Linked DNA regions of Homo sapiens: all the other regions are linked to region 1. Evidence: fine-mapped expression QTL. A gene starts in region 1. Each other region holds a variant in brackets. All regions are shown on one strand. Distances are between the middles of the regions.

Region 1 (6,192 bases):
TTAATAAAGACAGTCCTCCTTAATTCTTTTTACATGAAATGTTAATGTGGAACAATGATGCTTTTCATCTGTCTGGAAGAAATTCCTCATGAAATCAACAATGTAAAAGTTTTAGAAGGAAAAAATGTCATACATCTTAAAACAGAAGTCATATTAGTTGTATTTAAATGGTTGTATCTTTGTTCCAACTTTTAATCTTCCTTTTCTCAAGGTACATTCAAACTATAAATTTTCTTGAATAACTGAGTCAAAAAGAAAGGAGACTTGAAAACTAGGTACCAAAATAGGGTGAGGACTCTGCTGGTAAATCAGATAGTCTTGTAATATTTCCTTCTTTGGACGTGTTAGAAAACAATTGCTAAAAGGAACATAAATTTCTTTTTGAGAGTATGGCTAAGATTGTGAAATACATTCCTGAGATTTCCAAATTTTGTACTGGGAAACTTTTTGTTAGACTATCAAGCCTATTAAGGGACTCACAAATTGGAGTCATACGGGACATCTCTGCGGTTTTTTAATAGCTTCCAATTTACCAGTTGAGGATTCTAAGAATCATCAGTGAAGACAACGTAGTGAAACAGGGATTTGTTATATCATGGGATTCTCTCTAAAACCTTTAATTTATGGAATTCTTTCTGGGGTGGTAGAGGCGGAGAAGAGGAGGATTAGAGAAAGTTAAGATTCTTGGTTGAAAATATAACTTTTAAAAGTAAAGTGGGGGATAAACGAGGAAAATTACACCATATGTCAAGGGCATTATTTATCATAATCCACATTTTCAAACTCTAAGGAAATTGTTTATAAACAACGTCTGGATTTTTCCTTTGCAAGCATATACAATTTTTAAGTTTGAACTTCTTCCCTCAGAATTACTCCTTGTCTCAAAAAGTTTCAAAAATGTCTTTGATTTTTCTCCCCCTATTAAACAGACTTTATTTTTAAAGCATTTTTTAGCTTCACAGCAAAATTGAGCAGAAAATTCGAAGTTCCCATGTACCTCCCCCATGCCTTCCTGTCTCCAGCAGCCTCCCGGACTACCAACAACCCGTATCAGTGCAGTACATTTGTTACAAGTGATGAAACACATTGACACATCATTATCCCCAACATACATAGTTTACATTAGGGTTTACTCTTGGTGTTCTACATTCTATGGATTTTGATTAATGTATAATTACATGTATCAGCCATTTTATAGTATCATACAGAATAGTGTCATTACCCTAAAAATCCTGTGCTTCACCTGTTCATCCTCGGCAGCCCAAAATATGTTTACTTTTGCAAAGTTGTCTTCAAATAAATACTTAAAAGCAAGGACAAGACCCCCCAAGTTTTAGACAAGTACTAAATTAAGTAGCTCTTACCTACTTGAAAACTAAATGAGAGTAGTATTCATCAACAGAAAGCTAAGCGGGCAAAATGCTTTCCCCGCTTTTCCCCCATGACAAGCAAGATTAACCAAAAATATTACAGTTATTTAAAAGAAAAAAAGAAAGAAACCAAATGGGAAGAGAATAGAATGCAATCACGCTACCATTAACAATTTATGTTTTTCTGTTCTTGGATACCTTTTTGAGTGCCTGAGAATTTTAGTCGCAAGGAATGAAAAAAACTGTTTTCTCATTTCGAGTTTTTATTGGTCAATAGCTTCCTAACCGAAAACTCTGCAGTCCTAACACAATATTTTGTATCCATTTTCAAAAATCCAGTTCTGGGCATAAAATAGAATTAATGCTCAAGTCAAAAACTTTGTGTTTAGAAGATAAAATATTAGGAACCATGAGTATGAGAAAAACAAAAACTGTTTTCTGTATTTTTCCCTTCCTCTCTCTGCAAAACTTCTCTATTTGATAAGGGACAGCTAGCTTAAATTTACCACAAAGTAAAACATGAGCAAATCCCCTGGAACGAGGAGAACTTTCGCACAGGGCAATTCACTCGAATGTGACATCAGCATTCCTTCTGAGTCATAGTCTGGTCCCCACCCTTTTCTCCCAGGCGACACCAGGCTCCGCATAACCCGGGAGTGGCTCAGGTAGGGCCGTCGGTTCCAGTGCCTGCGAGGCAGCAGCCAAGCTGAAAATGTCTCCCTGCGCTGAGACGCTGGTGACAACCGCCCTTTGGGACTACCTGCCAAACAAGGAGAATGCGCTCTTTGACAGATAATTCCCTAAGAGGGAGGCACTGCCTCGGTCGGTAGACAAGTAATGAATGACCGAAAAAAAAATCACATTAGAAGTTATCACCAGCACGGGTGCGAAGGCAGTGCATTAAATCAACACTCATTTTAGAGCGCCCCAGACAGCCCAGCCGGAAGGGAGGAGATCAGAGCTGTCAAAGCACAGCAGAGCCCCAAACCACAAAGGCTTAATGAAATTCAACTTCCTGAGCCAGGAAGTGTCACGGTCTCGCCCGCACTCGCCCTAAGCTCGTCCTTTCCTTTTGAGGAGGCACAGGCAGAGCTGAAACATCTTAAGTAAAGTTTCCAACACCTACAACCACTGGGATTCCGTGAGACTGGAGAGAAGAGTCCCGCGCCCGCCCTCGCTCGCGCTTCCAATTCTGTCGCTCCCGAGTGTGGGGAGCTGGCGGGGCCGCCGAGCACCTCCTCTACCCAGGGGGCCAGGTCCCTGGGCCCGGGGCACCGCAGACCCAGAGCCGGGCTCACACCGGGGGGCCCGCGAGCCCCACCCACCTCGGCACCTCCGGCCGCCGCGCGCCGCGCGACCCGCGCAGGTGAAGCAGCCGCCGCCCGCCACGAGCGCCCCCCTACCTTCTTCACTTTGTTTTCCAGGTCCATGTTAACGCGTCCTATGGGTCCCCTCCTCCTCCTATCCGGGATCCCACGGCCGGGTTCAGCTGGCCTCCGGCTCCGCTGCGAACACGGGAAACCTGCGGAACTCCCGCGGCGCCGCTCAACAGCCACTCGCCCGGCGCCGTCGAACTTCCGCCGCCCAGTCCGCCGCAGCGGGCCTGCGGCCCGGACCCGGGAACAAAGGGGGCCGGGCAGCCAATGGCAGCCGGGCAGCTCCGGGCCGCCGCCAATCACCGAGCGCCGCACGCACCTTCGCGGCCCGAGCGCGGCGCTGGCAAGGTGAGAGGCGGGGCGGCGTCCGAGGCGGCGCCCTGCTGGGCAAGCTCAGTGACCCTGACCTGGTCTCCGAAGGGATTCTCTGGGCGTCCACGGGCCGGCTTCTAAAGAGCTGGGATCCCCAGCCTCCCTCTAGCTGAAGATGGAGAAGAACTTTTTCCATTTGGCAATTTGTACCTGTGTTTGCCCAGGACTTTTTATTTGGGTCAAGGGGAATAGTTATCCCAATACTAACTTCTCAGTTTATTTTCAGGGTAAAGAGAGAAAAAAAAGAGAGAGAGAGAGATTGTAGGGATCGTTAGGGATTCCTGTGATGGACCTTGGGCACTAAATTCAATATTGCGTTGTGGAGATGCCCTTTCCTCAATTGCTTTTTTCCACAATCCCAAATACTGTCAAGAAACCGTATCTTACATCCCTAAAGTCAGCGAAGATTCTTAGATTGTTTTCTGAGCATTGGGTTGTTCAAAAGTAAAGATGATGTGAATCACTTCAGAAACAGGTTGTGTCATTCCTTTGGAAGCAGAGGGTTGCCCTTTGTCTCTGTGTGAGATGGTGCTAGGCCTATCGCGTGCTCAGGCTTTGATGAAGCAGAGTCATCACATTGGTGCACCAAAGCTGAATTCATTTCATGCCCTAATTCAGGAGCAATTGCATCTAATACCATCAGATTGGTCGGTCTGGAAGGGAGCCTAACGATTACTTAGTCTAGCTTCCTCACTTTGCAGGGAACTGAGGACTCCAGAGGTGCAGGGACCTGCCTAATGTCTTAGCCTGTTGGGGACAGAGGCATTGCTCATGAATCTAAACAACTTCTCAAAGATGTTTGGGGCTGGAAGCACAGCATGTTGACTAAGGAAAAAGAGCAGTCAATTTTCTTCAATTTGTGGTTATGGCAAAAAATAACATTGCCCAGACAGCAGGTGACCTAATTTGGCACCTACTTTTAAAAATAACAAAACAATATAAAACAAACAAACAAAAATTCCCTAATAATGCAGATATTCAGGTCCAGATGTATGTCTGCCTTGCCTCGAGAAATTTGGTAGCTAAAAATATCCAAAATTCATTTTAGCCAATACTTGCAACTCTGCTTACTTGATTATTTGTTAACACAGAGCATTGATTTATAATGTGCATGTTTCCTTTATCCTATTAAGAATTAAAACTGAAATTACCAAAATGAGTTATGCATTTTTCTTTTCAGCTGATGTAAAACTTTTCTGTGTCATTTTCCCAAACCACCTTGAAAGGTGTGGGCCCCTGCAAAGTCTGCCCGTTGTAAGTGTATAGGATCATGAGGTCTAGCTATGACAAGGCAATTTTGTTTCTTTCAGAGAGCTTAACAGATGGAAAATGTCCAGTAAAGCAATTTAAATAAGGCATCAAACAAATGTTGTAACATAAATTTTGGACCCTTATTTGATGAGGTTGCAGAGATGACACTAAGAAAACCATCTGGAAACTTTTTTTTTTTAACTGTCAACTTCTGCCTTTCTCCCATTCTTCCTTCCCAACCCTCTCAGCATTACATTGTGTGTGTGTATCATTGGCAAGGATGGAAATAGAAATTCAGTGAGTTTTATCTGGAATTATCACTGTGCCAATTATATAAAAATAATTATAGATTATGTATAAATTATAAAAATAAAATTGAGGTAGATAAGTGTTAAGAGAGTTAAATTGTAAGTTTTTGTTCAGTTATTCAGGTGTTAAGCTACAGTTATTAAGGAGGTAGAACTGGCATGGTTTGATGAGTACATGTAGTTGATGACAGTGGAATGAATAGAAGATGGCACACATTTCTATCTTGATCACCTCTATGGATAGCTCAGAAAGAGAGAAAATATAGGATGATGGTCAGGGTTTTGTTCAGTTGTGCATTCTTTGGGGCTGGTGGTGGACATAAAGGATACAACTTTTAATATATTGAGTTTGAGACTGAGACATTGAAATGAGTATCCAAATATACATCTTGAATGCTGATTTAGGAGTTCACATCCTACATAAATAAATAATTAAAGGCCAAGAAGTGAGATGAGCCTCGGAGACAGTAAAATAAAAGAGAAGAATATCAAAGACACCAAGTGAGCAAGGCTGAGCAAGAGAAACACATAAAAGAGATAAGGGCTAGATTAAGGGTAAGAAAAAAATTAGGAGTCAAATCCCTAAAAGCAAGAAAGGAAATTGAAGAAGAAATTAGTTAACAATGTCAAATTGTAGAAAAGGGTCAAATGCCCTTCGGATTTAACAAAAAGGAGATCATTGGTGACTTTGGAAAGTGCATTTTTGGTGCAGTTGTGGGGAAAGATATTACTTTATAATTTTATCTCCCTTTGTTTCTACCAGAGTGCTTTAGTCAATGTTGGACTTGACTTTTCCACAAAACTTATGGACACATCAGCCAAATAAATGCCCAACTCTGCTGTTTCAATCAAGTAGAGAGGAAATCAATATACTATACTGGATAATACTAAGGAATGGTCTTAAGATCTTTATCTTTAGAGAAGTAAATGAAAATACTAGATTTTACACATGTGTGCAGGCACACACAGAGAGAGAGAGACAGACAGAGACAGAGACAGAGGAGAGAGAGAGAGAGAGACTGAAGTTCTCTGTATAGGCCAAACAAAATATTTATTCAGGTTAAATTCAGTTTCTATGCTATCAAATTACAATATCCGATGAGGGAAATGTGTTAAACTTTTATGTACCCTTCATCACTGGAGAGATGTAAAAATACATAAGACATTCCCTTTGTTCTTAAGCAGTTTACAGATTAGTATGGGAGTAGCAGGTGTGTAAGAGTAATGAAATGTTACAGGTAGAGGGAAGCACACGTGAGAGTCAGGGAGAAGGTGGTATTGGGATTTGTAAAATCTTTAGAAAAGAGTAACCTTGGCTTAGTCTTGGAAGATGAATAAGTGTCTTAGTTAAAACTCTTGATTGCAAGTTATATTAGGCCGTTCTTGCACTACTATAAAGAAATACCTGAGACTGGGTAATTTATAAAGAAAAGAGGTTTAATTAGCTCACAGTTCTACAGGCTGTACAGGAAGCATACCTTCTGCATTGGCTTCTGGGGAGGCCTCAGGAAGCTT
Region 2 (6,192 bases), 35 kb before region 1:
ATATTTAAGCAAGAAGGAAACAAAACACGACTTTGCTTGATAAGGCTTTTAAAAGCTAGGTTGTAAAAATTGAAAGAGGGACCCAATTAAACTGAAGAGCTTCTACAAAGCAAAAGAAACTGGCAACAGGACAAACAGACAACCTATAGAATGGAAGAAAATATTTGCAAATCCTGCAACTGACAAAGGTCTAATATTCAGAATCTATAAGGAACAATTCAACAAGCAAAAGACAACCCCATTAAAAAATGGGCAAAGGACATGAACAGATATTTCTCAAAAGAAGATATACATATGGCCAAAAAATATATGAAAACATGCTCAATATCACTAATCATTAAGGAATGCAAATCAAAACGATGATGAGATGCCATCTTCCATCAGTCGGAATAGCTATTACTAAAAAGTCAAAAAATAACAGATGTTGCGGAGAAAAGGGAATGCTTATACACTGTTGGTGAGAATGTAAATTAGTTCAGCCACTGTGGAAAGCAGTTTGGAGATTTCTCAAAGAACTTAGAACTATCATTCAACCCAGCAATCCCAAAGGAAAATGCATTGTTCCACCAAAAGGACAATGCACCCGTATGTTTATCACAGTAGTATTCACAATAGAAAAGACATGGTGGAATCAACCTAGACGCCCATCAATGGTAGACTGGATAAAGAAAATGTGGAACATATTCACCATAGAATACTATGCAGCCATAAAAAAAGAATGAAATCATGTCCTTTGAAGCAAAATGAATGCAGCTGGAAGTCATTATCTTAAGTGAATTAATACAGGAAAGGAAAACCAAATACCACATATTCTCACTTATAAGTGGGAGCTAAATATTGAGTACACATGGACACAAAGATGGAACTAACAGACACTAGGGAATATTAGAGTGGGGAGGGTGAGAGGGAGAAACGTTTGAAAAGCTAACTCTCAGGTACTATGGTCACTACCTGGGTGATGGGATCATTTATAACCCAAGCCTCAGTAACATGCAATTTACCCATGTAAAACACCTGCACTGCACAGGTACATTCTGAACCTAAAATGGAAGGTGAAAAAAAGAGGAAAGCAGCAGAATTATCAGTCACTAATAATGTATTTTTGGAAATTACTGAATTAAGTTTTGTGATTTAGATGGTACCATAACGTTTCAACTGAATTTTCTAAGTAAGTATTTTAACAAATTCAGTGTGTTTTGTCAACCAAACGTGCATCTGCATTTCTGATATGATAACGAGAAGCAATTATTCATTTGATTTTTATCAAAACCAACCAAGATTTTTTCAATGAATTCACTGAAAGAAGTGGTGATGGCCCCAATAATAGACATCTTCAATTGTACCATTAAAAAAAAAGACTGATTAAAAAGTGCACACTTAAAGGGACATGTCTGAGTGTAACCCCATCTGATATTCCTTATGCTGTCACCCAATAGTGAATAAAATAAATAATAAAAAGAAATGAATTAAATAAAACCACAAAAATTATATGTTTCCTTATTTAAGCAAGAGGCTTTGTACTTTATTGCATGTTAACATTTTATAGCTATTATCCAAGGTTTCTTGTTTGTTTGTTTTTTTAGTGAGAGACAGGGAAACTTTTCCCATCAAAGATTATAATCCTAGATTTAGGTTTACAGCCTTTCTCATTTTTTTCTCAATTTCTTTTGCCCTCCATTTCCTTCCCTTTGTTTTTCCTTTCTCTTTCCTTCCCTTATTTTATTTCTTCAAACACTTATTGCCACCTACCATGTGCTCTCTGCCATCATGGTGTTTCTTATAGTTCAAGGACAATGTTCTCTTCTTCACTCTGGTCTGGCACACAGACATTCATTCATTCATGCAACATACACGAGTGCCCATGTGCCAAGCAATGTACTTGACACTAGGACATAGTGCTTAAAAAAAAAAAAAAAAAAAAGGGGCCTAGTCTCTGATTTCTAGAACTTACTCTCTGGTGGGAGATAGACATTAAATAATCACACACACACACATACACAGAGAAAATTTCATTTGTGATAGGAAAGAAAGTATAGGGTCCCTTGAGAGGGTGTAATTTGGACTTCAAACTCGTGAAGAAGGGACCCCATAAGAAGATGATATTTAGGTTGAGATCTGGACGATGTATGAAACATAGGTGTAAACTGTGTATGTGGGTGTGTATCTGGGGAGGAGAAAAGGAAAGAAAAGTCTCTAGTATTGGGTATAAAGAGGAATACCTTCAGTGGTCCTGAATTAGGAAAGAAATTGTCCCCTTAGGTGTCATAACCAGGGGAGGTTGGTATGACTGTAGGAAGATGAGTCAATAGGAGGGTGATAAGACTGGAGAGGTAGGCATGAAGTCATGCAGGGGCTCATAGAACACATTAAGGAATTTGGGCTTCATCATAAGAGCAATCAGGAAGCAGCAAAGGCTTTTTGGTAATGGAATAAAATGATCAGATCTGTAATTTTAAATATCACAATATCTGCCATGTGGTAAATGGATTAGGGGTGAAACATAACTGGCAATAGGGAGACAAGCTAACATGTTAATTATGCATCCAGTTTGCAATGGCATGGTTCTAAATAACAGGATGCTGCCACTACTTCACAAATGGAATTTACATCTTGGAGGGTTATTGTTGTGGTCCAGGTAAAATATGCTATGGCTTGGATTAGAGTATTCAACAGTGGAGATGAAAAGAAAGGAAGAAATTTGAGGTCTCCTTGAACAAAAAACTGACTAAACTTAGTGGTTTATTTGGACATAGTGATGGCAAAGGGAAGGCTCAGTGATATGGTTTGGCTGTGACCCCACCCAAATTTCATCTTGAATCGTAGTTCCCATAATCCCCATGTGTTGTGGGAGAGATGTGGTAGGAGGTAATTGAATCATGAGGGCTGTTACCCTCATGCTATTCTCATGATAGTGATTGAGTTCTCTTGAGAGCTGATGGTTTTATAAGGGACTTTTTCCCCTTTTGCTCGGCACTTCTCCTTGCTGCCACAATGTAAAGAACATGTTTGCTTTGCGTTCCACCATGTTTGTAAGTTTCCTGAGGCCTCCTCAGCCATGCTGAACTGTAAGTCAATTAAATCTCTTTCCTTTATAAATAAATTACTCAGTCTCAGGTATGTCTTTATTAGCACCATGAGAATAGACTAATAAATACAGTAAACTGGTACTTTAAAGGGTGTGGTGCTGCCATAAGGATACCTGAAAATGTGGAAGTGATTTTGGAACTGGGTAATAGCTAGAGGTTAGAACAGTCTGGAGGGCTAAGAAGACAGGTTGATGTGAGAAAGTTTGGAAATTCCTA[G/A]AGACTTGGAGGGCTCAGAAGACAGGAAGATGTGGGAAAGTTTCGAACTTCCTAGAGACTTGTTGAATGAGTTTTACCAAAATGCTGATAGTGATATGGACAATGAAGTCCAGGCTGAGGTGGTCTCAGATAGAGATGAGGAACTTGTTGGGAGCTGATGTAAAGGCCACTCTGGCTATTCAAAGAGACTGGTGGCATTTTGCCCCTGCCCTAGAATCTGTAGGCAGGGGCAAAACTTTGAACTTGAGAGAGATGATTTAGGTTGTCTGGTGGAAGAAATTTTTAAGCAGCAAAGCATTCAAGAGGTGACGGAGGATAAAAGTTTGAAAAATTTGCAGCCTGACAATGCGATACAAAAGAAAAAGTTATTTTCTGGGGAGGGATTCAAGCCCGCTGCAGAAATTTGCATAAGTAACAAGGTGCCCGGATGTTAATCACCAAGACAATGGAGAAAATGTCTCCAGGGCATGTCAGAGAGCTTCACAGCAGCCCCTCCCATCACAGGCCTGGAGGCCTAGGAGGGAAAAATGCTGTCGTGGACCACGCCCAGGGATCCCTTGCTCTGTGCAGCCTTGGGACATGCTGCCCTGCATCCCAGCTTCTTCAGCTCCAGTGGTGGCTAAAAGGGGCCAAGGTATAGCTTGGCCCATTGCTTCAGAGGGTGCAAGCCCCAAGCCTTGGCAGCTTCCATACGGTGTTGGTCCTGCAGGTATGCAGAAGACAACAACTGATGTTTGGGAACCTCTGCCTAGATTTCAGAGGATGTATGAAAATGCCTGAATGTCCAAGCAGAAGTTTATTGCAGGGGCAGAGCCCTCATGGAGAACCACTGCTAGGGTAGTGTGGAAGGGAAATGTGGGGTTGGAGCCCCCACACAGAGTCCCCACAAGGGCACTGCCTAGTGGAGCTGTGAGAAGAGGGCCACCATCCTCCAGACCCCAGAATGGGAGATCCAAGGACAGCTGCAGGCACTCAATGCCAGCCAATGAAAGCAGCTGGGAGTGGGACTGTACCTTGCAAAGCCACAGGGGCGGAGTTGCCCAAGGCCATGGGAACCCACCTTTTTTGCATTAGCACACCCTGGATGTGAGACATGAAGTCAAAGGACATTTTGGAATTTTAACGTTTAATGACTGCCCTATTGGATTTTGATCTCCCATAGGGCCTGTAGCCCCTTTCTTTTGGCCAATTTCTCCCATTTGGAATGGCTGTATTTACCCAATGCCTGTACCCTCATTGTATCTAGGAAGTAACTAACTTGCTTTTAATTTTACTGGCTCACAGGCAGAAGGGACTTGCCTGGTCTCAGATGAGACTTTGGACTTGGACTTTTGAGTTAATGCTGGAGTGAGTTAAGACTTTGGGGGACTGTTGGAAGGGCATAATTGTGTTTTGAAATGTGAGGACATGAGATTTGGGAGGGGCTGGGGCAGAATGATATGGTTTGGCTGTGTCCCCACCCAAATCTCATCTTGAATTGTATTTCCCATAATCCCCACGTGTTGTGGGAGGGACATGGTGGGAGGTAACTGAATCATGGGGCCTGTTACCCTCATGCTGTTCTCGTGATGGTGAGTGAGTTCTCATGAGAGCTAATGGTTTTATAAGGGGCTTTTCTCCCTTTTGCTAGGCACTTCTTGCTGCCACCATGTGAAGAAGGATGTGTTTGCTTCCTCTTTTGCCACAATTGTAAGTTTCCTGAGGACTTCCCAGCCATGCTGAACTGTGAGTCAATTAAAGCTCTTTCCTTTATAAATTACCCAGTCTTGGGTATGTCTTGACTAACTGAGAGCAGACTAATACACTCAGTCTCTTGAAAAATAAAACCAAGTTTCTGGGATGAGTAAATTAGTAGAATGAATATAATTTATTAAGATAGTATATTCAAAAGATGAACAGTTTTGCAGTATGGAGTGGGGAAGGTTGATGGAAGTCTCCAAAATGAAACCACTGATAAATTTGATATGCCTGTGAGACAAGGTAAAGATATCACAGAGTGTAGGATCTATAACTCTCATGTTAAAAACTGTAGCCTGGTAGGAAATATAAATTTGGTGGTCAGGGAACAATATATAATGAATATGAGTTAAAGAGATCATCTGTGCCTGTTGGCAAAAATGTAGAGGGAAAAAGTAAGGACTCAAGAAAGAGTCTAGTAGAGGAAAAGAAGCTGGAAAAGGTGACAGAGAAAAACAGAGGAGTAGGGAGTGGTGTTAAAAATTTAAGCTGGAAGCAATATACATGGCAACGACAACATAACAATAAGAGTGGCGATCTGAGTGTTGTAAAACACATTCTAAAGATACTTACATTGTTCAGTCTATATAAACATGGATTAACATTAGATACAATTAGGCTAAGAATGCATGTTGAAGTAACTAGATAACTAAATAATTTATAGTTTAAAACACTCAAATTAGAAAAAAGGAAAAAATAAAGTACTAAGTGTTCAACTCAGGAAGTTAGGAAAAAGGCATAATAAGCCTGAAGTAAAAGGAAGGAAAATAAAGAGAATAGCAGAAACTAGTAAAAGGAAATAGAAACTATTCTAGAAAGAGTTCCTAGAGGATGAGGCATGGGGGGAACAAACCCAGACACTCAGCATAGATCATACTTACTGCATTAGTTTTAAGATGTGAAGCAAGAAAGCAACCTTGCTATCACCAATTCTAATCATATGGTTCTGAAGGTACTAATCAGAGCAGTGTGAAAAGTTACAAGAATTCATCAGAAAGAAAAAAACTAAACTGTTGCTATTCACAGATGCTATGACCACAGAGAAATGCAATGTATTAATTAGCATTAAGAAGAATTTACTAAGTTTTCTAAATTTAAAATTAATATAAATCATGGAATTTATCTACATCAGAAACAGAAAAAACAACTAAAA
Region 3 (6,192 bases), 49 kb before region 1:
CCTGTGGCTTTGAGAATGGATCAGACAGAATGAGATGCTGGGAGGAGCAAGCGAAGCATAGTCCAGTAACCAGAACCACAAGGACGTCAGTGTCTCCTGCCCTGACTCCACATCATTGCTGGCCATGAAAAGTGAAATGTTACCTAAGAAAGGTATTCCCCAAATGATGTTCCTGACTCATCTCACAAGTCAACAGAAACCCAAAACTTTAGATTCATACTTATTTACAAACATACCTTTTAGTTATCTAAACAATGCTGAATCTAAACAATCATACATTAGCAAAATAATTTTGTTCTGGGCAGCATGTGCCCAGACCTCATGGTATGAATTGTGCTTGGATAAGTCAACCATAGCAACTCTGTTTCCCTTTGCCTTTGATGAGGATGAGCAGGTGACATATTTGTAGCCAATGAAGTGGAAAGGCAGGTGAATCAGCTGGGGGCCCCTGGGAAAGATCTTCTTCGTTGTCTAGAGGTAAAATACGCTTTTGCCATTTCTCTTCTTTATTATTTTGGATGATGTCATATGAGGGAGTGTTGCTTGAATGAAGGGACAAATGAGAATAGAAGGCAACAACATATAGAGGGTGGAAGAATAGAGAGATAAAAATAAACTTGTTCTGAGCCAAATTTGGGTTAGCCTCTATCTTGTCTTAAAACCACTCTTAGTTTTTTAGTTACTTACAGCCAAAAGCATCCCTGATAACCCACTTTTCCCTAGGAAACTACCAGAACTAACCTTAGCCTGCCTCTCGACCCTGTTTATTACCCCTGGCCTCTAGATTTTTCAGCCTTACTGGAAACCTGATACCCATTCTGCTTTGTACTTCGAATCTGGCCCTATCTCCTCCTATACTCTTATCTCTGTACCCACTGACATCCAACTTCTGTGAACTGCAGACTCCTTTGTACTCTCAAACTCCTCATCATCTTCTCCAACTGACACCTAGTTATCCCCAAAGCCTATTTCTTCTGTAGTATTTCAAGTAGTGTCTGGCACAATCCCTGTGGGGTAGGTGTCTTCTTCACCGTCTACTGTTTTTCCCATTAAAGGCTGTTTGTTTCCTAACAATCACAGCTCTTTGAGGTGTAGCACATGGCCTTAGACTTTACCACCCATCTCCACCCTGAGTTTCCATCTTCTATCAGATGCCACAATACTTCTCCACATACTTTTATAACTTTAGCTCTGGCTTACTCTTCTCTCCACCATTTTCCCTGTGGTTATTCTTGATGACTTCAATACATTATATCCATTCAACACTTGGGCCCGGTATTTCTTACTCTTCAAATCCAACAATGTTGTCCTCCATCCTACTGTAATGGGAGAGGAGGAGAATCAATGGGATGTGGCAAAAAGTGTCTTGTCTAGATTCCTAAATCCAGCTCTCCCTGGAACTATATACCATGATGTCTTCACAGTCCATCAATATTTATGGAGAAATCAACTGTAATATTAGTCTCTGTATTCACTAATGTCTGACTCTCGTAAAGATAACAGGATACAAGTTGGTTTTATTATTGGCTGAGGGGCAAGATACCCTGGTGAGGAGTATCACTGAAAAAAAATTGATAGCAGCCTTCGTAAATGTCATCATAAGATGCCATTCAAAACAAGTATAAAAAGTTAATGGCATCTTATTTTGAGTGCTTCAAGTTGTATTATCAGATCAAATAAAAGCTACAATGACAAGTTCTCTGTGAAAGAACAAAATAATTAGCCAAAGCTATTTAAGCATCAACTAAATATATGAAAAAAGATCCTATTAATCTATTAATCGAGCCAGAATGTGTTTTGTGTGGTCAAAGCACATACACATAAACCAGCACAGTGGGTCCTTTGCATACATGTGGGCATTCATTACAGTCATCAAAGTTGTCGGCAAGCATTTAAATCAGCAGAGGTCAAGAAGGGGCAGATGAGTGAGAAATTGTGGCAAAGTGCCTTTTTATAGAGACATTGACGGAAACCCAAGTTTTCCAAAGAATTAAGTGAATACCCAGAAGACAAGTTCAGATATGCCAAGGCATCTCAAGACAAAGGCTGAATACTGATCTTGGGTGTTGGTGTCTCTTTGGTAACTACGGTGAAGTTGTATAAGCTTAAACGCTATGTGTTGGAAATTCCTTGAGAATGAATCAGTGATGAATCCCTTGCCTTTGGTGAAATTGGGCTGAAATACTTCAAAGTCAAATTTGGAAATCTATGCTTGAAGACTTCAGTAATAGAAGTTTCAGCTAGTCAATGAAAAGAAAGAATAATCCCTAACTCATTTGCCGCCCCCCCCACCTCAAAAAAAAAAAAAAAAAAAAAAAGGAAGGAGGAAAGGGAGATATGTAGGTACCATGCAACAAATATGAAGGCTAGTATGTCTCAAGAGCAATCCAGATTTCCTAAGGGATTGGCCGTGTTAGTAGCAGATGGGTTCTGTTTCAGTTTATTCTCACTTAGCCATGTCTGGGAAAAGTTAAGTTGTACAACTTTGTGGACAATATGCTGTGGAAAATATATTTGTTGCCATTTAAGATAAAGATATGAGCAACCATAAAGCGATCTTTATAGACAGTAATGATACTTGTGATATTAGCTTCTAAAATTATATGCAGAATTAGATTACTTTAGATAAGGTGACACGTATCCAAGCTCCAAAAGTTACTTTTGCATGGTTGAAGGCATAGTGCAGAAGGAGTAAATTTGTATGCTTGGTATGCACATGTGCATGTGTGTGTGGTGGTGGGGAGTGGAGAGGTGGAATGTAAAGAGAAGTACTATTGGCCAAACAGGAGCTGGAAAAAAAAAAAAGTCAAGTTATTCTGGGTATGTATCAGAGAAAACTGCAACTCCCACTATGACAGAAATAATTGTAGACTGAGGGAGAAAGTATTATGGCCTGCTAACATTAGGAAGCATGAGTCTACCACTATTCCCCATTTGCTTTCTGTCTCACGATAAGTTTCCATGAAAAAATTCTTCTTTTAATATTTTTTACATATAAAGAAACCAGAGTTGAAACCCAAGTATAAAAGGCTTGTTAGATCCAACTGAATAGAAAATAAGCTCTCCCAAATTTTAATTAAAATTACTTTCCCTTTCTTTGAAAAAGAAAAAAACTCTTGCATGACCAAACTTAAAAGTCCTGATTTGAAAGTTTCATAAACCTTATCTTTTCTCCATAATGAAACATCTAGATTCTGTGCTGTCCTGTCAGAGGCAGACTTTTATTTTCGTTTGGGTAATTTTTATCCTTGGAGACATCGCCCCCTGCTGTAACACATGCTTAGTTGCAGAAGCATTTTTCACTCAAAAAAGGATATGAATAAAAAGATACAATGATTATTAAAGTGAAAGAAACTTT[ATTTTG/G]AGTAATATACATATCATTCATTCCATTTAATTTTCATAGTGCATAGCTATGTGTAGAAGTACACAGGGAAGAATAAACATTAGAAATACCTAGCCATGAAAATATACAAGTGAAGACATTTGATATATCCATGGACAGGCTTGGAAGTATTATAAAACAGGATCCATTAGGAAAGAATAAAAACCATGCAAAAAAAATCTTATCTAAATCATGGCAGGCAAGTGCAATCAATATAAATCATAGTCTCTGGGTACAAAAACTATACATGTTCTTTGGATTAAAAGCAAATGGGTGGCTTGGCTTTTATGTCCAAGCCAAAAATCATCTATACAAGTAAAAAGTGTGTGGGTCAGGCATGGTGGCTCCCACACCTGTAATCCCAGCACTTTGGGAGGCCAAGGCAGGCGGATCATCTGAGGTCAGGAGTTTGAGACCAGCCTGGCTAACATGGTGAAAACCTGTCTCTACTAAAAATACAAAAATTAGCTGGGTGTGGTGGCATGCACCTGTAATCCCAGCTATTTGGGAGGCTGAGGCAGGAGAATTGCTCAAAATAAAAAAAAAAAAATAAAGAACTAAAAAGTGTGGATACTGTTATGCCACATGTGATAATAAAATATTCAAGGCCACAGATGCAAGTCACCAACTTACAAAGAGAATACTGAAGGTAGGGTACATTAAAAAAATAGAGAAATGCAATAAAGAAAATGCCACCTCTGCCTAAATCAGGAAAGAGTAAATGCATAGGCATTAAAACAGCAGCTCTGCATACTACACTGCATTTCTCTTTGTCAAAAAGAATTCACTGTGTATCATTACAAAGGTCAGTGAATAAGACGAGGCAATAAACGTAGCGCCTTGGTATTAGGGCAAATTTAGTTTTCTTTTCATTTTACACATGAGGGGGAAAAAAGAAGTGTAGAACTAGGAATGCTCATCTTTCCATTCAGTACACTAACTTTTAAGTGTGTGGCACAAATGGAATAGAGACATGAAGTTTAATGAGATCCAAGCTTCCAAAAATGATTTCACATTTGAAAAGCTATGGAAAGATACAATTATTTACTGTTTTACAAATCAAATGCTTAAACCAAGTTTAAAAGTTGAGACCGAAAAAAAATTGATGAAGAAAAAATGGCCAAAAAAATTAAACAAAATCTCTTGGTTTCCTTTACAGTTTCTTTTTTTGCGTTTTATTTTTTTCAAATTGCATTTTACAGTAGAAATGCAGACCACTTTGGATAGCTATGGCTCGATACTTCTGGGTGCCCTCCTCCTAAGACATCCTCTTCTTACATTCCACTGAACAGAAAACCATCCCTTCTACTGGCATGAACTTCTGCCCAATGAGGCATTTGCTGCAGCAAGAGCACAGAAAGCACTCTGTGGATGCATGCCAGCTGAAATTGTTATAGGTCACCCGCTGCACTTCTGGGTCGATGGCATTGTGGCATCCTTGACACACCTATTAAGAAATAATACAAGAGAAGAGGGTGAGAGATCAAGCTGTAATGGTAACATTTTCATCTTAGGACATATTTCTTTAGATGATAAATTAAAACTCATAATGACAACCTCAGAAATACACAATGGAGGGTGGCCTTCTAGCTAACCTTTTTGGCCAACTGTTAATGGAGGTCAATATTCTGAGCAGCCTGAGAAATAACGAGTGAAGGCCAAACAGGTGATTTGATGCATGTAAGATAACTTCATGGCATTCAAGGCAGAAAGTCTTGATGGGAAGTTCCAAAGCAGTGTGCTTAGTTCTGATGTATTTTATTAGATTGCACATTTGTAATTACACAGAAGTTTATGATTTTTCCTTGTTCATTAAAGCTTTGAAGTGGTAATTTTACCTGTCTTACCTATGACACATGAGATTATTAACACCACTAATTTCTAGACAGTAGTAAATTAAAATCATGTTCAAAGTAATTAAGGACTCAATTAAAAATACTGACAGTGTTTGAGAAAAATGAATTTGCACTAAAAATATAACTTGTAGTTAATTGGCTTCTATTCTGTCATAAGATCAGTCATAATTTATGTGTAATCTAATATTGTAGAACATTAATACTTACAATCCCTGTACCATTCAGTATGTGTTATGTATATATACATGACATACAAACATGTATATACATACACAAACATACATACATTTACACCACAAAATTTTCTTCTTATTCAAACATGCACATGAGGAAAATGAATAAATAACCTATGTTATAGCAGAAAACAGAAAACCAGTTCGGACCTCTGAAACACTGGATAGTCCATGCCTTATAGTTTATACATGTTCTGAATGAATATGGCTGTCTTAAAGTTTTTGTTTTAAATATTTCATAACAAGTGAAGAAGCCAGCAAGACTGTCTGGTATCACAGTGACTAATCTTAAGCACCCTTGGTCTCGTAATGTGATTGTCAGGAATTACTGAGGGATAAGGGGTGGGAACAGGTGAGTGGAGGTCATTCAGCTTGAGCCTCCTTACTTGAAAAGACTTCAAAATGTGGCTGCTACTCACTGGGTAATTGGTTTAGGCAGTGAAGTGAGGCCTGGTTATATATGTCCATTTCAGACCTGCATATTTTTGTTACATTGCTTCTGATTACAGAGATTATAGCTCTGTAATCTATAAGTTAGGTCAACCCAGTCTTCCCTGAGATACAATGAAAATTCTTTGATCAACACACTATTCCTGAATACTATAAAAATGAACGTTTCAATTACAAGCACATTTCTAATGTGCAGCTGCACCATGCAAGCAACTGCTTTTTGTATATATTTTTATAGCTTTATTATGCATTTAGAATGTCTTATTTTCTG
Region 4 (6,192 bases), 120 kb before region 1:
ACACTTGAATTATCCAAAAGTTTTGTAAGACCCATTTGAATTCCAAAAACCTTTGTGAAGCTTTTTTTTTTTTTTTTTTTTTTTTTTTTGGTGGTGGTGGTGGTGGTTTGTTGGGAAGAGATTGTTGGAAGGATAGGCAAAAAGTGAAAACAGGTTATTTTGAGTTAGAATTAGGATCACAAGGAAACCTCTCTAAAATGGTAAAATACGCAACATAATCAAAGTGAGTCTTAAACATGAAATTTATGTGGTTCAAATCAGTCTATAATGTGGCACAGTGTAATTGCTCATTTTTGAAACTGATCTCTGCCTATAGTACCCACATAGCTCATAAATATAGCATTTGTATAATGCTACATAGAAAATACTTTCTATTTCCAGATTAGAATAGAAATTATTTTAATTGCTTGTTCATGTATCATTGAATATTAATGGAATCTTCTCCATTTAACGAGGCACAGAGAATTTCCGAAAGGAGGGAGAGCAAAGAAACATTAAGCCATATGGAGATTATCAATGTTATCACTCTCTGTCAAAAGGACTGAAAGGTTATATATACCAAATCCCAATATGTGCAGTCATATCATCTGCTGAATATATTTGAAAGTTAATAACTGTATGTAAAAATAAAACTGTGGCATCATTACATTTTAAGAAGCATTGCAAATGTATTGCTCCACATAGAAATGCACACAGACTAATATTAAGTCATGCTCCATGCTTCTTGTCCTATTTCTTGCTAAGTTTGAGTGTCTGGAATCCTTAGCTGAGTGCCAGTGAGTCTGGAACTCAGACAGAAGCTGCCCAGCCTCACTGGCTCTGCGTATTACAGGCTGTATTTGGTCCTGATTTACTCTACTGGATATGGTATCTGAGTTTAATGATGGATTTCATGTAGAATGAATACAGTAACTTAAAATTATGAGATGAAACTGCCTTACAAAACATTATTTCTTAACTTTCTGAAATTTGATGCCAGGACACATCCAGGATTTGAGCATACATCTGTCAGTTCTCAGCTCCCTCCCCTTAGTTCCAACCATCACCAATCACACTCAACACTTCTTAGTTTGGAACAAAGAAGCTCACTACCATCATGGTAGAATTAACTTGTAATGAAATTCATGCTTACCACATCCTATGAACAGGCCAGGATTTTATAGAACATACTTGATTCCTTTGGAAAACATGTTTATTTTTGAGTTTCTAAGCAGATGCATTTCTGCATTTGAATAGCAGCTTGCCAAGAAGTTCTGAAATCTAGCCATTTTAATAAGAAAAACCAAAATAGTGGTACAAGTTCTTGACCATCTGTTACTGCTCTTACAGAGAAGATTACTGCATTGGGTGGGAGGGAAGAGTACAACAAATCCTTAGGTACCAACCAGTTCTAAGACTCTATTATTCAAGCACCTCAGATTCATTGATTATTTCATGCAATTTATTGTGCTTTACTTTGGGACTAGCTATGCACGGATTTGTGTTATCTGAGGTGCATAACTAAGCTTCTCAAGGCTAGTCTATCTTCACTAATATCTTTTCTACTTAATCCCTGATATTCAAAATATATTTAAAGGAGGTGGGAGAGGAAATGCTTCCCATGTCACATTATAAACAAGGCCTAAAATAAAATTACTTTAGGGAGGGAGAGAATACACAGCAGTTTTAATTTTCACTAAGGTGGAAATGACTGATATCGAGCCTATTCAATTAGCAAATTGTGATAGCAGACACTAGACATCCCTATAGGTATAAGGAGGACACTCCAGAGGGAAGGACAGCCAGAGAAAACAGAAGGTGGAGAATGTTACCCTTTGCTTTAGAGTCAGCCTGTCTAGCTTTATAGCTGGTTTATACATCCCACAACTTTAGACTTCATAGTTAAGTACCCAGAGTATAGGAGAGTCCTCAGAAGTGGTTTGAATGTGGCTGGGTGTGGTGGCTCATGCCTGTAATCCCAGCACTTTGGGAGGCCGAGGCGGGCAGATCACCTAAGGTCGGGAGTTCGAGACCAGCCTGGCCAACATGGTGAAACTCTGTCTCTACTAAAAATACAAAAATTAGCTAGGTGTGACAGTGGGCTCCTGAAGTCCCAGCTACTTAGGAGGCTGAGGCAGGAGAATCGCTTGAACCTGGGAGGCAGTGGTTGCAGTGAGCCAAGGTTGCGCCACTATTCTCCAGCCTGGGTGACAGAGTGAGACTCCGTCTCAAAAACAAAGCAACAAACAAAATAACACAAGTGGTTTGAATGGTTTCTTATTTCTCTCTACAAACCTTGGAATTATCTTCATTAGGTGAAAAAGGGCAACAAATATATAAGTTTAGCTCTTAATTACATGCTGCAGAAAATGTAAAGAAGTACATATGGTAATAGCCAGTTTTCAATACAGGTAACACAAAAGGAAAGGGAAAGCTAATCTTAAAATGAAATCACCATCCTAATGAATTACCAAAAAGTGTGAAAAGTACTTTTACATCAAATGAAAAAATGTAATCTTTATCAAATTTATTTTTTACAACATTTATATTTATTGATCTGAGGTAGGCTTTTGTTAGAACAAAATTAATAGTAAATACTGAACAATATGTCAGGCATGGGGCAAATTGGTTTCTGTTCTTTACAACAAGCCACTATGACCCTATTAGGAAATGTTTTAAAGGCGTTTCTTAGCATTTTCAACAAAATATTTGTACTCCCTACTGAAAATAGCTTAATATGAAGTCCCAAAGGAATTCTGTCTGCCTCATAAAATTGCTTTTGGAGTTTTCAGTTTCTGGCCTCCTCCTTCCAAATGCACAGTGAATATATGGTGGAGTTTTGTCTAATTCTTTCAGTAGAGGAATTTTGCTACATTAAAATAATTTGTTAATTCATCATTTCCATGGTAAAATAGAAATTACTCACCCTGATTCCTAATACGATCAACATAACTTTGCTTTTCATACATAAAGACATTGGTATGAAAAGGAAGCATTCTCTTCCTTCCATCCATATGCTAGCCTGCTTGAGCGGTCGTGTACTATGACTATGGAAAGCATGACCTCAAATTCCAGCCACACCACTTCCCAGCTGTGTACCGTTCAGCAAGTCACTTGCCCCCTGTAATGACTCAACTTCCTGGTCTGTAAAATAGAATCATAGTGGCCACCACCAGAGAGAATTGCTGAGGGGAGTAAATGAGAGCATGAACGTAGATTGCAGCACAGCGCCCATCATGCGGGATGCTTTCAATAACTGTGAGTGATTTTTTCTATTATTAATTAATGCTTTTCTTGGATTTTCTTAACTACATCATATATTTCTAAAACCAATACTCTCTGTTTTTACTTATAAAACATAAATCTTCCGTAAGTAAATAATTATAGACTGAATGTCAATTCCTGGCCAAGTGCAGGATATACTGAGGCCATTATCTGGTGAATGCAGGGTTTATAGATAGCCTATCTCAATTATTTAGAACCTAAAGTGGACATTAAGATAAATTTTAAACATTTCAAAAACAGAACTGGTTGTC[A/G]CACAGTTTAATAAGCAAATTTGACCCCTAAAGTCTTTGAATAAATGCAGAGATATGGCTCATTATACATTTAAGCTTTCATTTCTACATGTTAACAATTTACTGAGATAAGCAAATATAAACAAAATGAACACTGTGGGAAAGTGTGTTTGATATTTTAAAACTCTTGTCAAACTAATTAATTCAAATGTGTCATTCAGGCCATTATTAAAAAGTCAAAAAATAACAGATGCTGGCGAGGCTGCGGAGGAAAGGGACGCTTATACACTGCTGGTTGGAATGTAAGTTAGTTCAGCCATTGTGGAAAGCAGTCTGGAGATTTCTTAAAGAACTCAAAGAAGAATTACCACTTGACCCAGCAGTCTCATTACTGCGTATACACCCAAAGGAATATAAATCATTCTATCATAAAGTGACATGCACACGTATGTTCGTTGCAGCACTATTCACAATAGCAAAGACATGAAATCAACCTAAATGCCCATCAACAGTAGACTGGATAAAGAAAATGTGGTACATATACACCATGAAATACTACGCAGTCATAAAAAAATAATGAGAACATGTCCTTTGCAGCAACATGGATGGAGCTGGAGGCCATTATCATAAATGAATTAATGCAGAAACAGAAAACCAAACACTGCATGTTCTTACTTATAATTGGGAGCTAAAGATTGAGTACACATGGATACAAAGAAGAGAACAATAGACACTGGGGCCTGCTTGAGCGTGGAGGGTGGGTGAAGGGTGAAGATTGAAAAACTGCATATCGGGTACTATGCTTTTACCTGGGTGACAAAATAATATGTACACCAAACCCCCGCAACATGCAATTTATCTATAGAACCAACCTGCACATGTATCCCTGAAACTAAAATAAAAGTTAAAAAAAGTCATTCATTAGGTATTAAATTCTGAAAGACCAAACCAAACAAGATGGAAAAAATAGAAACCATCAATGTTTCTGTCTCTACTGGGCCATTTCCATCATCATACAACATAGGACAGTTATCTCCTGTCTTAAACATAAAAATGAATAAATGAACCTTCTTTGTCTCTATGGTCTCCTCCAACAACCACGTCATTTCTCTGTTCCCTTTTAAGACTAAACTCTAGGCCTGTCTTGTCCTAACAACTGTACTAAAAGCTCTCTTATCGAGGTCCCTTAAAACCCCCACATGGCAAAATCCACTGGCATTCTTCATTCTTCATCTTTGACCCAGTTTATTACTTGGCCACTAGTCCACTACTCTATCTTATTTCTTGACCTCTAAACACTGGAATGCTGCAGGTCAGGCTTTGTGTGCTCTCTCTACCTGTGTTCCCTAGGTATCTTTATTCAGGCCTCAGCTTTTTAAATATACCTATAGATGGATGAACCCAAATTAGATCTCCAACACTGAGCAGTCCCATGAATTACAGATTTGTATATTCAACTGCCGCTTTCATATCTTCACCTAAATGAAATACAGGCATACCTTGGAGATGTTGTGAGTTCTGTTCCAGACTACCACAATAAAGTGAGCCACACACGTTTTTGATTTCCCAGTGCGTATAAAAGTTATATGTTTATACTGTAGTCTGTTCAGTGTAAAATAGCATTATGTCTTAAAAAACATGGACATATCTTAGTGTAAAAATTGTTTATTACTGAAAAATGCTCGTGATCATCTGAATCTTCAGTGAGTCATATTCTTTTTGCTGGTAGAGGGACTTGCCTCAGTGTTGATGGCAGCTAACCAGGGTGGGGGCTGCTGAAGGTTGGGTGGCTGTGACAATTACTTAAAGTAAGACAGCACTGAAGTTTACTGTATCAATTGAATCTTCCTTTCACAAAGAATTTCTCTGTAGCACGTGATGCCGTTTGATGGCATTATACTCACAGTAGAACTTCTTTCAAAATGGGAGGAAATTGTCTGAAATCCTGCTGCTACTTTAACAACTAAGTTTATGCAATGGTCTAAATCTTTTGTTGTCATTTCAACACTGTTCATAGCATCTTCACCAGGAATAGATTTGATCTCAAGAAAACACTTTGCTCGTCCGTAAGAAGAGATTCCCAATCTATTCAAGTTTTATCATGAGATTGCAGCAATTCAGTCACATGTTCAGGCTTCACTTTTAATTGTAGTTTCTTGCTGTTTCTACCACAGCTGCAGTTACTCCCTCCTCTGAAGTCTTGAACCCTTCTAAGTTAGTTTTCCGTGGGGATTCGAATCAACTTCGTCTAAACTCCCATTCATGTTAATATTTTTACCTCTTCCCATGAATCACAAATGTTCCTAGTGGCATCTAGAATGATTAATCCTTTCCAGAAGATTTTCTGTTTTCTTTATCCAGATCTATCGGAGGAATCACTGTGTATGACAACTGTAGCCTTACAAAATGCATTTGTTATATTAGGCAACTTGAAAATAGAAATTACTCCTTGATTTATGGGCTACAGGATGGATATTGTGTTGTGTTAGCAGGCATGAAAACAACATTCATCTCCTTGTACATCTCTATCAGAGCTCTTGGGTGGCCAGGTGCATTGTCAATGAGCATGACATGGTTTGGCTCTGTGTCCCCACCCAAATCTCATCTCTAATTGTAATCCGCATGTGTCTGGGGAATGGCCTGGTGGGAAGTGATTGAATCATGGGGGCCGATTTCCCCCTTGCTGTTCTTGTAATAG
Region 5 (6,192 bases), 80 kb before region 1:
CACCTCCTCTTTAAGGCCAATAACTCTTAGGTTTGCCATTTGAGGCTATTTTCTAGGTGTTGTGCATGCTTCTTTTTTAAAATTCTTGTTTCTTTTGTCTCCTTTGATTGTGTATTTTTAAATAGCTTGTCTTCAGGTTCACTAATTTTTTCTTCTGCTTAATCAATTTTGTTAAGAGACTTCGATGTATTCTTCAGTATGTCACTTGTATTTTTCAACTCCAGAACTTCTGCTTGATTCTTTTAAATTATTTCAATCTGTTTATTAGATTTATCTGATAGGATTCTGAATTCTTTCTCTGTTTTAACTTGAATTTTGTTGCATTTCTTCAAAACAGCTATTTTGAATTCTCTGTCTGAAAGGTCACGTATCTCTGTGTCCCCAGGATTGACCCCTGTGCCTTATTTAGTTCATTTGGTGAGGTCATTTTCCTTGAAGTTTGTCAGTGTCTGGGCATTGAAGAGTTAGGATAAGGTATTTATTGCAGTTTTTGCAGTCTTGGCTTGTTTGTACCTGTCCTTCTTGGAAAGGCTTTTCAGGCATTTGAAGAAACTTCAGTGTTGTAATCTAAGTTTTTGGTTACTGTAGCCATATCTGCATTAGGAGCCACCCCAAGCCCAGTAATGCTGTGGCTCTTGCAGACTCATAGAGGTATTGCCTTGATAGTCTAGAATAAAATCCAAAATAATTCTCTGGATTACCTGACAGAGACTCTTGTTCTCCTCCCTTACTTTCTCCCAAACAAATGGAGTCTCTCTCTCTCCCTCTCTCTCTCTCTCCCTCTCTCTCTCTCTCTGTGTGTGCTGAGTTTCTTGGAACTAGAGGAGGGGTGACACAAACAACCCTGTACCCACCACCACTAGGACAGTGCTTCAGACCTGAAGCCGGCACAGCATTGGGTTTCACTCAGAGTCAGCTGTGAAACTGCCTGGCTACCACCTATGTTTGCTCAAGGCTCTAGGGCTCTAAAATCAGTAAGTGGCAAAGCCAGACAGACTGTGTCCTTCTCAGGGTGGTGAGTTCCCCCTGGCCCTGTGCAAGTCCAGAGATTCTGTCTAGCAGCCAGGGCCTGGAGTTGGAAACCTTAGAAATATACCTGGTGCTCTATTCTACTGTGGCTGAGCTGGCACCCAAGCCACAAGACAAAATTCTTCCCACTCTTCTCTTCTCTTTCCACAAGCAGAGGAGTCTCTCCTCATGGCTACCACTGCCCTAGGTCCACAGTGAGAACTGCCTTGCTACTGCTCATGTTCACTCAAGATCCAAGCACTCTTCAGTCAGTTATGGTAAATGCTGCCAGGCCTGGGACTCTTGCTTCAGGGCAGTCAGCTCCCCTCTGGCCAATGGCAGGTTCAGATATGTCACCTAAGAGCCAAGGCCTGGAATCAGGGACCACAAGGATATGCTTGCTGCTCTACGCCACTGTGGCTGAGCTGGTGCCCAAACTACAAGACAAAGTCTTGTTTATTCTGCCCTCTCTTTTCTTCAAGTAGAAGAGTTTCTCCTCATAGTCACAAAAGCTGGGAATGTACTGGGTCGTGGCTCTGAATCTCACCCCAAACCCATGGTAAGTACTGCCTGGCTACCACTGCTGATTGTTCAGGGACCAAGGGTTCCTTAGTCAGCAGGTGATAAATCTTGCCAGAACTAGGTCCTTCCCTTCAAGGTGATGGGTTCTCCTCTGACCCAGGGTATGTATAGAAATGTCATCTGGGAGCTAGAGCCTGGAATGGGAGCCTGGGACTCTGCTCTGTGCTCTATCCTGCTGTGGCTAAGGTGGTATCCAAGTTGTAAGACAAAGTACTCTTTACTCTCCCTTCTCCTCTCAAGTGGAAGGAATGGTTCTCTCCTGAAGTTGCAAGCTTCACTGCCTAGAGTTTGGGAAGGGTGACACAAGAACTCCTTAGGCCACCCCAGCTGATGTCTCACTAAGTTGTGTGCACCCCAAGCCCATTGGTTTCAAGCCCAGCACAGCACCAGGAGTTGCCCAGAAATTGCAGTCCTTGTGGCCTGGACTGCCATTCATTTCAAGTTTATTTAGAACCCCAGAGCACTTTAGCCTGTGTTGGCAAGACTTGCCAAAACTCAAGTTCTGTCACTGGGATGGGCTATTTCCCTCTAGCTAGGGTTGGTTGAAATGCTCCCTCTATGGGTACTGGCTGAGTTCTGGCCTTTGTTGCTTTCTGCTGTGACAGAGCAGCACTGAATTCCAATGCAAAATTCCACAGTCACTGCACTGTCCCACCCTCAAGCATACAGATTCTCTCTCTGCATCATGAGGGGCTGCTGTCTGGGGATGGGGGAAGAGTGGTGTAGGCAATTCAAGTCTGCCTTTCCTATCCTCTTCAGTGCCTCTTTCCTTAATATGATGTGGAGAAATAGGAACACTTTTACACTGTTGGTGGGACTGTAAACTAGTTCAACCATTGTGGGAAGACAGTGTGGCTATTCCTCAAGGATCTAGAACTAGAAATACCATTTGACCCAGCCGTCCCATTACTGGGTATATACCCAAAGGATTATAAATCATGCTACTATGAAGACACATGCACACGTATGTTTATTGCGGCACTATTCACAATAGCAAAGACTTGGAACCAACCCAAATGTCCAACAATGATAGACTGGATTAAGAAAATGTGGCACATATATGCCATGGAATACTATGCAGCCATAAAAAAGGATGATTTCATGTCCTTTGTAGGGACATGGATGAAGCTGGAAACCATCATTCTCAGCAAACTAT[C/T]GCAAGGACAAAAAACCAAACACCGCATGTTCTCACTCATAGGTGGGAATTGAATAATGAGAACACTTGGATGCAGGGTGGGGAACATCACACACCAGGGCCTGTTGTGGGGTGGGGGGAGGGGGGAGGGAATAGCATTAGGAGATATACCTAATGTAAAAGTCGAGTTAATGGGTGCAGCACACCAACATGGCACATGTATGCATAAGTAACAAACCTGCACGTTGTGCACATGTACCCTAGAACTTAAAGTATTTTAAAAAATGATGTTAAAAGCAGGTACTGTGATCACTCACCTGATTTTTGTTTTTTATGAAGGTACTTTTTTGTTTAGATAGTTGTTCAATTTTGTTTTGATAGTTGTTCAATTCCTTTCGGGGAGATGATTGCTGGAGGCTTCTATTTGGCCATCTTGTTCCATCTCCTCCTGTATAGTACTTTTTAATGCTGTCTTATGATTTTCTGATCTTACACAAAGGTCTTAAGTACGTTTGCCTGCTCAGAGAAAAAAAAGTGTATCAAATGTAGGTCTTCCATAGTATGATTCATTTTAATTTTGAGGACTTTATTGGCTCATTACAAAAAATGTTTTCACTAATAATAACAACTTTCTTTTAAATCAAAACACATTATGAAAACACACAATTTTTTTTAGAAAAAGTGTTCAGTAAATATTATTTAACAATGCTTCTCTAACTTCAGCCAAACCAGAGAAGAGTAATTTATGGATTTTGAAAAGTTCATATGTGTAGTTTGCAGAAGTGATATTTGGTACATTCTTTGTGTAGTTGCCAAAATTTCTCCACCAAAAATTAGAACTCATTTGATAAAAATTGTTGACAAAAATAACCACAATAACAATACACAATGTATGATGTGAGAAGCTTATTAATATGATAAATAATATATCTTAAGCGTAATGAAAGAGTTTTTTAACTCCAAAAATTCAGTTTGTATTTAGTACAGCTAGAAGTTCTGTTACAAAAATGCATAAATTCAAGGTTCACTTCTTAATACCTAATTGGTTTTGCCCACTATTCTATAAATAATCCATAAAATTACATGTTCTTTACATCTTCTGTGATAATTAAAACAATATTTAACCAGATTTTAACAAATCTAGCTAATTGTTTCTTCTGTACTCAATTATTTCTACTTACTTCAAAAAAAGTAAACATCAGAACCAAGATCAGGTTTCACGTGTGAGAATTTGGAGTTTTTTTTTTTTAACATAACATCTAAATTTGAAGTACTCTAATTTTAAAAATTAGGATATGATGAATATTTATCAGAAGATCCTCTTTTTCAGATAGTTGAAAACTTTTGTGTATACATTCAGCATCAGAAATAACATATTGATTATTTTGGCTGGGCACGGTGGCTCACGCCTGTAATCCCAGCACTTTGGGAGGCCGAGGCAGGTGGATCATGAGGCCAGGAGGTCAAGAAATAACATATTGATTATTTTAATGGATTGATAGCCATCTTTAATGCCAATACAACATTATGCCTGTAAATTTAGCATTATTGCTTTTCATAAGAAAAAGAAATACAGTGGCATGTTATGCTTTTAAAATTTCCTGATTTGGCCAGGCGCGGTGGCTCACGCCTGTAATCCCAGCCCTTTGGGAGGCTGAGGTGGGTGGATCACAAGGTCAGCAGATTGAGACCAGCCTGGCTAACATGGTGAAACCCCGTCTCTACTAAAAATATAAAAAAAAAAAAAATTAGCTGGGCGTGGTGGCAGGCACCTGTGGTCCCAGCTACCTCAGAGGCTGAGGCAGGAGAATGGCATGAACCCAGGAGGCGGTGCTTGCAGTGAGCCGAGATGGCACCACTGCCCTCCAGCCTGGGCGACAGAGCAAGACTCCGTCTCAAAAAAAAAAAAAAAAAAAAATTCTTGATTTAAGGTAGCAAGGCTTTAAAAATAAATCTACAACTATTTCTTACAAACACTTCAAACTCTGAGAAAGATGAAAGCTAAACAAAGGACAATACTGGTATGAGTCATATATTTATTGAAAAGGAAACATAAAGAACTACCGTGCAGGCACACACTGCTGGACTGTAAATGAGGCTCATTTGAGGCTGGGGATACGTGAATGTGCTTGTTGTGCTGGGCCCAGGGAGCCTCTGGGCACAGCTCTTCATGGAAGTGGCCTGTAGGGTGAGTAGGGGTGAACCCCTTCCTGCAAGCCATGGACGGCAGAATACAGTGGAAATAAAACTTACTCGGTCTGGATGGCAGAATTAGAGATAGCATAGTGGCATGGGTTGACAGCCTCTCCTTCTCCCAATACCTATCCGAAACAAAACCCCAAAGTTAAAAATTCACCAATAGCTTAACAAGAAAAGATAAAACTTCTTTCCATAAAATGTGGAAAGTGATGACTTGATAGAGAGGAAAAAGAATCTTCTGGTTAAATATCATCCATGTACCCCAAACTGGCCAATGGTTTCTCATTTTCCTCAAAGTCCAAGTCCTTAAAATGCCTTCCAGGGCTCTCTATGACCTGGGTCCCAATACTGTGACTTCATCCCCTATTATTCTCCTGATTCACTCCTCACCGGTTGTGTTGGCCTCCTCACTGTGCCTCTAACATGCCGATCACTTTTCCAGTGCAGGCCCTTTCCATCTGTATTTCCTCTGCCAGAGCAGTTCTTCCCTGACAATGTACAGGGCTCATTCCTCCATTTTCTTCAGGTCTATGCTCAAAAGTCACCTTACCAGAGGTCCTTTCAGAACACCCTGTCCCAAACAGCAGACCCTATAGTCTCTGATATGCTTACTGTGATGGTTAATATTGAGTGTCAGCTTAATTAGACTGAAGGAAGCAAAGTATTGTTCCTGGGTGTGTCTGTGAGGGTGTTACCAGAGACTAACATTTGAGTCAGTGGATTGGGAGAGGCAGACCCACCTTTAATCTGAGTGGGCACCATCTAATCAGCTGCCAGCATGGTTAGAATAAAGCAGGCAGAAGAACTTGGAAGGAGCAGACTTGCTGAGTCTTCTAGCCTTCATCCTCCTCCTGTGCTGGATGCTTCCTGCCCTCAAACATCAGACTCCAAGTTTTCCAGCTCTTGGCCTCTTGAACCGACACCAGTGGTTTGCCACAGTCTCTCGGGCCTTCAGCCACAGACTGAAGGCTGAACTGTCCACTTCCTTACTTTTGAGGTTTTGGGACTCGGACTGGCTTCCTTGTTCCTCAGCCTGCAGACGGCCTATTGTGGGGCCTTGTGATTGTGTGAGTCAATAATCTTTAATAAACTCCCCCTCATATATACATCTATCCTATTAGTTCTGTCCCTCTAGAGAACCCTGGCTAAACACTTATTTCATTTTTGTCTATAACACTTATACAACCTGGCTTATATAAATCTGTTTTGTTATTCATTCATTGTTGTCACGTCAACAATAGTAATATTCATAGTTCAGGCACATTGTG

The links.
Region 2: its variant is fine-mapped to the expression of TES in whole blood (TOPMed, PIP above 0.99).
Region 3: its variant is fine-mapped to the expression of TES in whole blood (TOPMed, PIP above 0.99).
Region 4: its variant is fine-mapped to the expression of TES in whole blood (TOPMed, PIP above 0.99).
Region 5: its variant is fine-mapped to the expression of TES in whole blood (TOPMed, PIP 0.95).

Annotation. Positions count from the first base shown.
Region 1 is chr7:116,207,316-116,213,507 of GRCh38, reverse strand. TES (testin LIM domain protein) reads right to left here and starts at 2,969. Exons shown (of 7, transcript NM_015641.4): 1 at 2,774-2,969. The coding sequence starts at 2,800. RefSeq lists an enhancer at 2,041-2,280 and silencers at 2,641-2,730, 2,871-3,070, 2,825-3,087, 3,121-3,250.
Region 2 is chr7:116,242,677-116,248,868 of GRCh38, reverse strand. All of the region lies in intron 2 of TES (testin LIM domain protein), which reads right to left. LOC124901730 (a long non-coding RNA gene) reads left to right here. Exons shown (of 4, transcript XR_007060485.1): 2 at 4,933-5,027. Among named protein-coding and RNA genes, the nearest start is that of TES, 35 kb to the right of the region's middle. The variant G/A (reference allele first, on the strand shown) is at 3,303.
Region 3 is chr7:116,255,931-116,262,122 of GRCh38, reverse strand. TES (testin LIM domain protein) reads right to left here. Exons shown (of 7, transcript NM_015641.4): 7 at 3,340-4,829. The coding sequence ends at 4,641. It overlaps LOC124901730 (a long non-coding RNA gene), which reads left to right and starts at 4,819. Exons shown (of 4, transcript XR_007060485.1): 1 at 4,819-6,192. The variant ATTTTG/G (reference allele first, on the strand shown) is at 3,359.
Region 4 is chr7:116,324,877-116,331,068 of GRCh38, reverse strand. The region is part of intron 6 of LOC105375463 (a long non-coding RNA gene); the gene reads right to left. Among named protein-coding and RNA genes, the nearest start is that of TES, 120 kb to the right of the region's middle. RefSeq lists an enhancer at 2,920-3,214. The variant A/G (reference allele first, on the strand shown) is at 3,516.
Region 5 is chr7:116,286,901-116,293,092 of GRCh38, reverse strand. LOC105375463 (a long non-coding RNA gene) reads right to left here. Exons shown (of 7, transcript XR_001745336.2): 2 at 4,979-5,046; 3 at 3,043-3,241. Among named protein-coding and RNA genes, the nearest start is that of TES, 79 kb to the right of the region's middle. The variant C/T (reference allele first, on the strand shown) is at 2,747.